Regions from separate parts of the Homo sapiens genome. Here regions 2 and 3 are each linked to region 1. Evidence: fine-mapped expression QTL. A gene starts in region 1. Each other region holds a variant in brackets. All regions are shown on one strand. Distances are between the middles of the regions.

The links. PIP is the estimated chance that this variant, and not a neighbour inherited with it, causes the effect.
Region 2: its variant is the best candidate, but not a certain one, in a credible set for the expression of MS4A4A in whole blood (TOPMed, PIP 0.50).
Region 3: its variant is the best candidate, but not a certain one, in a credible set for the expression of MS4A4A in whole blood (INTERVAL, PIP 0.73).

Annotation. Positions count from the first base shown.
Region 1 is chr11:60,279,270-60,282,038 of GRCh38, reverse strand. It overlaps MS4A4A (membrane spanning 4-domains A4A), which reads right to left and starts at 1,373. Exons shown (of 7, transcript NM_148975.3): 1 at 1,323-1,373. The coding sequence starts at 1,363. RefSeq lists a silencer at 1,439-1,488.
Region 2 is chr11:60,337,655-60,340,423 of GRCh38, reverse strand. It overlaps MS4A6E (membrane spanning 4-domains A6E), which reads right to left. Exons shown (of 5, transcript NM_139249.4): 3 at 2,477-2,683; 4 at 460-558. The coding sequence ends at 469. Among named protein-coding and RNA genes, the nearest start is that of MS4A6E, 12 kb to the right of the region's middle. The variant G/A (reference allele first, on the strand shown) is at 1,294.
Region 3 is chr11:60,176,213-60,178,981 of GRCh38, reverse strand. MS4A6A (membrane spanning 4-domains A6A) reads left to right here. Exons shown (of 6, transcript NM_022349.4): 4 at 666-722. Among named protein-coding and RNA genes, the nearest start is that of MS4A6A, 5.5 kb to the left of the region's middle. The variant A/C (reference allele first, on the strand shown) is at 1,557.

The DNA.
Region 1 (2,769 bases):
TTTTCCACCACAGAAATCCTTGTGTTAATTATCTACGGCACATGAAGTCCCCAAGAACAAAAACGTGTTTACCATCCAGGGCTTGACTTCTCTATATTCAATTTTTTTTTTAACTGCTGAGAATATTGGATGCATATGAGGGACATTTCTTCCAGGTTGGAGAAGAATTTAAACCTTGGTTTTGCCACATCACCTATATGCATCAGGCTCTTAAGAAATACAATGTCTTTCCCCCACACCCCTGATAAAGAGGTGGGGAAACCCAGACCACCCTTCCCTCTTCTATTGGCCCCAGTCACCTTGTGGATCAGCAGCACCACCAGTCTCTTATTTCCTCATTTTTATGTCACCATCCTCCTCATGGGTCACAATTGCAAGGAGAGAGCATGAGGAGAGTGGTACAAACAGCCATCCGTTTTTCTTGGCAAAGTTGTCAAATAGACTAGAAACCCAAAATGAGGCCTGAATCTGGATGGTTTTAGAAGGATGATGGGGATGCAGAAGTGGTGGCATGGGAAGGGAAAAGGGGGAAAGGCCCGGGCTAGGAACCAAGAATTCTGTTTTTGTTTTTGTTTTTGTTTTTCTCCCAGCCCTTTTGTTAACTTGTGTGATTCTGGGTACATTATTTCCCTTTTATTGGCTTCTTTTACTTCATCTGGGGAAAGATTACAATGGCCACGACCACTTACAAGCTTCTTTCTTATCCTAAGAATGCTAAAAGTCTACAAGGTGTTTTTCATTAGCAGATTTTATCATGAGCAGCCTCAGTTTACTGCCTGGGTGCCCCATGAATAGTGCCAAAGACCACTGGAGAACTAGGTCAGGCCACAGCCCATCTAAATGTACAAGGCTGGGGACCCTGCCTGTGCCCTACTCCATGTACACCAAATTCTGCATGTGATACATCTGTTCTTAAATCCTGAGTTATAAAAATAACCAGTCAGACACAGAGAATAAAGACCACAGAAGAAGGGCATTAACAGTAGATGAGGTAACTAGTCAAAGGTTTAAAATGTTGCTTTCAGTGTTTTGATATCCTGAAGACTCAGGGGACAAAAGTAACTAAACAACCTTATCCAGCCTCCAATGTCAGCCTTTAGGAGGCTTTTCTAACTCCTATCGACTGTAGCAAAAACTGTTCCTCATCCCCCCACCGAATGCACATTTAAAGGTGCACTCAACCCACCCCAACCCTGAATACCAGCTTGGGTCATGGGAAGTGGCCTCATTATTCTTCTCATTCCCCTCCCAGAAATTCTTAACCCAGGAAGTGAAACAAGCCATCAGCCCGAAAGCCTAGGAAGGCAAGTCCCTGGACCTACCTTTCTTCAGGCCTGCAATGTCTGCTGTAGGTCTGATGCATGCAGGGCTCTGGGCAAGTTCCTCAAAGTTCTTTGGTCTAGACCCAATCAACTTCCCCCACTCCACACCTCACTCAGTTTAAATCTGCATTCCTCTTCTAGCAGATGTTTGGAACCTTAAAGGCTGTGCTGAGAATTTCTGAGACGCACAGCTAGTTCCTCTTTTATATCGGAAGCATTAACTGATTTTGTGTTCCCAATATGGGTGTGGATGTCTATTTTGAAATTTGCTGAAAAAGCAGGGGCTGCCTGATACAGTCTTTCCTATGAAAATAATACTGCTAATTACTGTGGATATCAGTGGTAGAGGATTTACTGTATGCCAGACTCTCTTCAAAAGTCGTTATATAAACAAGTAAATGGTATTTTGTAAATACCCCCTTTCACAGGGTCACACATTTCCACAGTACTCTTGTCTTCCTGGAGCACTACTATTACTATTTTATTAGGTTGGTGCAAAAGTAATTGCAGTTTTTGCCATTATTTTATGGCCAAAATCACAATTAACTTTTGCACCAACCTTAATATACACAACTTAAATGTTTTATTTACATGAAATTCCACCTTTAGAGATTCATCAGGAGTGGCCATAAAATGGCAACAAGTTGGTTGTATGGCAATAAAACAACACCTTTCTAAGTGAAGGAAGCAGCTGGTATCATAGAACGAGCTGGTCTTTGACTAAGATCAAACCAATGGCAAACATTTCTTGCATGGCCCTGTTAATCTCCTGAACCTAAGATTCATTTGTAAAATAAAATAATGCCTACTTTACATGGAGGAGGAAAGCAAAGTGGTGTGCAGTTTTCATTCATTCAGCATTTTCTTTAGAAAAACTACTATAAGCCAAGCAGTGTGCCGTGTGCTTCTGAAAAAATGGTAAAAAATAATTTTCACTCAAAGAGTTTATAGACTACTTGGAAAAACAGACCAGTAAATAAATCACTACAATCCATTACTATCAGTTATCTGCAAGGTAAAGTGGCAATACAGATGAGTAAATACATCATTACAACCCATTGTAATCAGTGATCTGCAAGGTAAAGTAGGATATCCTAAGAGAGCTCATAGGAGGATCAATGAACCCAACATTGGGTAGGCAGAGGAGACTTCCTAGATAAGGGGACATCTAATTGGAGACCTGATGAATGAGCAAAAGACACACAAATGGAAAGGGAATGAAGGAAGGTAATATTATTATTTCTATTTTTCAGAAGAAGAAACTGAAACTCAGAGATATTCGTATAGCTGGTATAGATGAGATTGAAATCCAGTTTTACTTAATTCCAAAAACTATGTGGTCTATAATCTGAAATTACGATTCTCAAAATTAAAATAGATTATATTTCAGAAATATTGTCCTGGTTTCAGACAACAGGAATAAATAATAATAAAATCAGAGAATTAG
Region 2 (2,769 bases), 58 kb before region 1:
GCAGAGCATAAGACATTCACTGGATCCAGTCACATGTGTAAAGGCCCTTTACCAAGTCAATACTATTAAAGAGACTAGTGGTTGTGGCAGAAATTGTTTCTGCTTAGAAGGGAGGCAAGCCAGGTTCTAGCGTCCTCAGCACAGGTACAGACTCATATCATAATGCCAGCCCAGTCATTTAACTTCCCAGAGTCTCATTCCCTTCAATGACAAAATGGGAAGATTGAACCAGTTGATTTCTCATTTTAACTATTTTCATATCCAGTGAACTCTCAGCTTGTCAGCTACTCAATTACCATCTGCTTTTCTTCTCGGTCTTCCATCACCATTTAAATGACCTCCCATGTGTATCTCATGACTGACTGATTGTTCCTTCTACCACTCTTGGTGACATACTCAACACAGTGCAGAGATAAGATACACTAGGCAAGATTAAGCGAGGCTGGCCAGCACACTCACCCAGGGAAGTCAGACAGTCTGTTTCCACTGCAGCACAGCAGTGAGCACAGCTAGGCAGAACTCCAACACAGTAGAAACCAGCATCAGAGACAGAGTTCCCTGAAAGTCAAGAAATAAAATATCAGTGATGCTTGGGTCAGCCGAAGCTTTCATGCCTAGTTTAGAGGTGACCATAGAGATGAAGACCACCTCAACCATTAGAGAATGAAGTAAGGAAACAATCAGGAAAACAAAACTGCTCCTCCTCACAATTGTCTTAATTCAACTCCTTCACTCATTCAGTTTCTTGAGAAGAGAAGGGAAGATGAGTAGTAACTAAATCAACTAATCCATTTCATACACTTGTTTCTCACTTCTTTGAGACGTACGTAGTTCTGATGACATTGTTCACTCAGTAAGAGAGCAGAGTGGCGTAATAGCTCCCAGGACTGAGAATCAGCAGCTCCATTATAGTCTCATCTTTACTGCTGAGTAGCTGTGTAAGCCTGGACAAGTCTCTTTCTTTCTCTAGCTCCTGTTTCCTCATGTATCAAACATGCATACTAACATTTATTTCTCAGAGATTTGTGAGGATCAAGGAGGTTTTGGCTGTGTAAGCCCTTTGTAAAATTCAGTATTGACATCCCTGTCTATGTATCTGAACCTGTTTGGATGTTTTTTATTTTTGTTGTTTATTTTTTATTTTTGCTGTTTTTGGTGTTTTAAGACTTGGAAAAAAACAGTGAAGGTAGTAAACTGTTGCTAATCACCAACACCAACTCACAAGGATGAGTTCTACCATTTCTGTCCTGAGACATTCTTTGTGCAGAACTGGTCATCTGATAATAAAGGGAG[G/A]TAATTTGATCACATGAACTTTTGTTTTGTGGTATTTACACACAGTTAAATAGAAGATACATGTTGTGTCCATTACCTAGAAATTGTTCCAGCAAGCAAGCTCAACAGAATCTCTCTTATTTCCAATATAAAATCGTCCCATCATGAATTTATACTTTATCACTACCAAATTTCTCCCAAATTTCTCTCCAGAATTTTTCCCAAGGTGGAATTTGTACCAATTACTGTCAGCCTCATTTGCATGCACTTTTTCCTCATTATACCATTACCTTGGAAGCAAGGCTCAGTTTATAATGGGTGCTGTACAAGCATGAATTTGACCAGACCTTTCTATCTGTCCATCGTCCAGGTGAGTTCTTGGCTGACCTCATTTTTATGATTGCAGGACAATAAATATTCTGCAACTTCTTTACTTTTATGTTGCCTGTTTTCCTCTCAATGCGTTGCTGGCCATGCACATACCCCTTAATTTTTCAACTTCAGACACATTATTTCTGTTAGCCAAACTTCATTGTTTTTCTTCTTCCAAAGAGAGAGAATTCTCCTGCGATAATTCTCAGTTACACTCTCCATCTCCCTATATTTCTTATCTCCTGATTTAAGATATCACACTTCTTTCAGCTATAACAAAAAGCAATAATAATGTTACCGTTTCACCTGATTAGTATTATTCATTATTGTAATCATTAGGAGAAACCCTTACCATCTAACCCCATATTTCCTATTCTCTGTTTCTTCATCTTTAGTCTGATGTCTTTTTAGACCAAACTGACCCCCTACCACACACACATACCACATTTCCTTGTCAGCATTTTCTGATCACCCGGGTCTTTCTGCTCTGTTTGCCAATCTGAATTCACCACTCTATGTACCAACATTCTCAGTTTGACAAACTCATAATTTATGCCTCCAAAATTAGATTAGTTGAGTAATTAAGAAACTCTACAAACCGTAAGTTTTAGTTTTTCATCATCAACCTTATCTGACATTTCAATTCCACTCTGTTAGTATGTAATCCCCTTAATCTCATCCATGCAGCCCCCCTTTGATTTACATAACCTTGGCCTTCCTCCAGATGCCCAAACCAGAATTAACAGAGAGATTTTCAAAGGATGGAATAATAAGAAATCAAGGCTTTCAGAAACCTCATAAAATTAGAACATCCCATCTAAAAAATACTTACAGCCAGACTGGCTTTGGCTCTATGGCAGTCCATGGTGTAAGGTGAATGATAATCATAAGAAAGAAGAAGTCTGGTTGGTATATCCTTTTCGTCCAACTTACACTGCAATGAGGCAGGATTTAATGCAGCCGGGTTGACAGACAGGAGAATGAAACCCACCAGGGCAGACAGAGCACTCAGAATGCTTCCAGCCAGGCTGCTATGCACCTGAAAGAGACATGCTGGGTAAGAATCATTCCCAAAGGGCCACGAATCTCTCTTATCCCTTTTTGCCATTACATTGCAAGTTATTC
Region 3 (2,769 bases), 100 kb after region 1:
TACATTTTGTCATGATGTCTCCTCAGGGTCCTCTAGGCTGTCTAAGATTTTCCTTTTCCTTGAGAACTTTGATAGTTTTGGGTAGCGCTGGCTGAGATTTTTATAGAATGTTCCTAAATTTGGGTTTGTCTGATTTTTTTTTTTGATGTTTAGAGTATGGTGATGAATTTTTGGGTGGTGATGATGAGGTAAAGCACCATTTTCATCAAGTCGTATCAAGGGTCATGCTACCAACATAATGTCACTGACACAATTAACCTTGATTATGTGGTTGGGGTAGTATTTTCCAGATTTCTCCTCTGTAAAATTACTACTTTTTTTTTTAACCATTGCTTTTATGTCCTTCCCTAGAGAACATCTTACACCAAAACTGTCTCATTTTATTAAAAAAACAAAAATTATTTCCTGGCTTTTAAGGTCTTTTTTTGTTTAGTGGGATATTTTTTGTTTATTAGGATATATTTCTGCTATCTTTTTTTTTTCTGATGTTATCTGAATGTTATATGGACAAAGGGACAAATCTATGTATTTAAATGGAACTTACCTCATTGATCACTGGTTTCTCAGGGATTTTCCCATGAGAGTTGTCTATAAACATTGTGATAGTGACGTCGAAGGTACTCTGTACATGGAATCTGACCTGACCATTTTCTCTTTTATCTTAGTTTATCATCTCTGGCTCTCTATCAATCGCCACAGAGAAAAGGTTAACCAAGCTTTTGGTGAGTAAGAGAGCTATAACCCACAACCCAATGGATCAAAATAAAACTTAGACAGAACTCTTTAAGGCTAGTCTTTCTACTTTGAAAAGTTGAAAACTCAGTTCCAGAGCAGTTGGTTGTTGTTAGAATTAGGAGCTGGGCCTGGATCCTCTGTATCCTTGTTCAGAGAACATTTCTCCAATTATTGTACCCTACATCAAAGTCTGCATTCAGGGGATTATAATATTCCCTCTGCCCATGCCGAAGAATGTATCACAGAGAAATTGTGCCTGTTTATGAGGTTCTTTCGGTGATAACTGGCCTTCAAATTCAGGTTTTCAGTGGCAAGGAAGCTGACAGTGTTATAAAGCGGTCTATTGGTTGGGGTCCATTCTTTAAGCCCAGGTGTTACAACCCTTGAAAAAAAAATGAGTCAAAGTGTTGTTCATGTGAGGTATCCAAAGTAGACACAGAGGCTACTACAGTATACTACATTACATTTAGGCCTGATGTCTCCTCAGGTTCCTTTAGACTTTCTCAGATTTTCCTTTTCCTTGAGGACTTCAATAGTTTTGGGTAGTGCTGGCTGACTGTATCCTTTCATCTATCTCACCAGAAGTATAATACTTTTATTTTGTTTGAGTATAAATTCTTGCACCCTAAAAAGTTGTCCTTAGTCATTTGTATTGGCTAACAAAAAAACAAAACAACAACAACAAAAAACAAAGCTTTACCCGTCTTTATCCCTTATTCCAGCAAAAACTAGAGTTGGAAGTGGCAGGGAGACAAAGCCTGGATTATAGGGAGAATCTTCTCTTGTCTTTAAAGTTTCATTAAGTCTTCGCTCAATCCATT[A/C]TCTCTCAAGGGGTTGATGTTGGAGATTATGTGAGAGAATGTCATACCATGCAATTGCACCGAGACTCAATTTGGAAGCTCTGGCTACAAAAATCTCCCAAAGCCAGCAAGGAAGTGAGAAACGGCATCCAGAAAAATGCCAATTCTTTTTCTCATCGGTATTTAGAGATTATTATTTGGAACCCTCAGTTAGACTCGGAACTACTAACTAGATCTGTGCTGTTTAATTTAACTTTCTTTGAGGATGGAAATGAAATGTAACTTTCTATGATGATAGAAATGAAATGTAACTTTCTATGATGATGGAAATGCACTACAGCTGTACTGTACAATATGGCAGTCACATGTGGCTATCGATGATGTGAAATATAGTGCAACTGAATAAAAATTTCTCTTAATTTTACTTTAAATATAGATAGTCTATGTGGCTATTGGCAACCATACTGAGTAGCCTGGCACAAGGGTAGTGCTTTCAAACTTTTAGGAGGAAATATATGGGCCTGTTACTCCAGAGAACAATCCCACAGTGAACATGCAGGAAGCTCAAGGATGCAGGATGTGGTCTCGGGGTGGGCTCAGACTTACCAGAGACATCGAGGCTTTAGCGAGTTCTACTCTTGTCACACATTGCACCAGCCCTTTTTGAGATTGAAGAAGAGTGCCATCTCAAGACAAATCTAGCTTATTCTAAGAAATATAGACTCTAGGCATCAAGAATACTACTGGCTACTAGGAGGCCCAGGAGTGTACACTTCAGTCATTATGTTGGGAAATTGGGGTCCCAGAGTATCAACTGGTGAGTTCCTAAAAGAAGAAGTGCCCATGTGGGATTAAGTAACATTCTACTGTATGGCTGTGAGGTGTGCCCTGGAGCCTACCTACCTGTAACTATAGCTCTCAGAGTACTCTTAGCTCAATTCTCTTTTCTGTGTGAGTTGGAGTACAAAAGAAGTCACTTCTGAGGTTAGTTTATCTATTCCCTTCACTTCATAAATGTATAAATGAGAACCAGAGTGGGAAATAAAATCAAGGAACTGATTACCCAAGGGAATAAACCAAGGCAAGTCTAGTACTGTGACTTCAATATTCTGACCTCCAGTTCAGACCTTTTTCTTGTACTTCCCGCTGCCTCCCACACATTACACCATCCTTGGGCCTGCACCTAGACCTCTGCCCACAGCCACCCCATACTGCACTCAGTGTGGCCAATCAT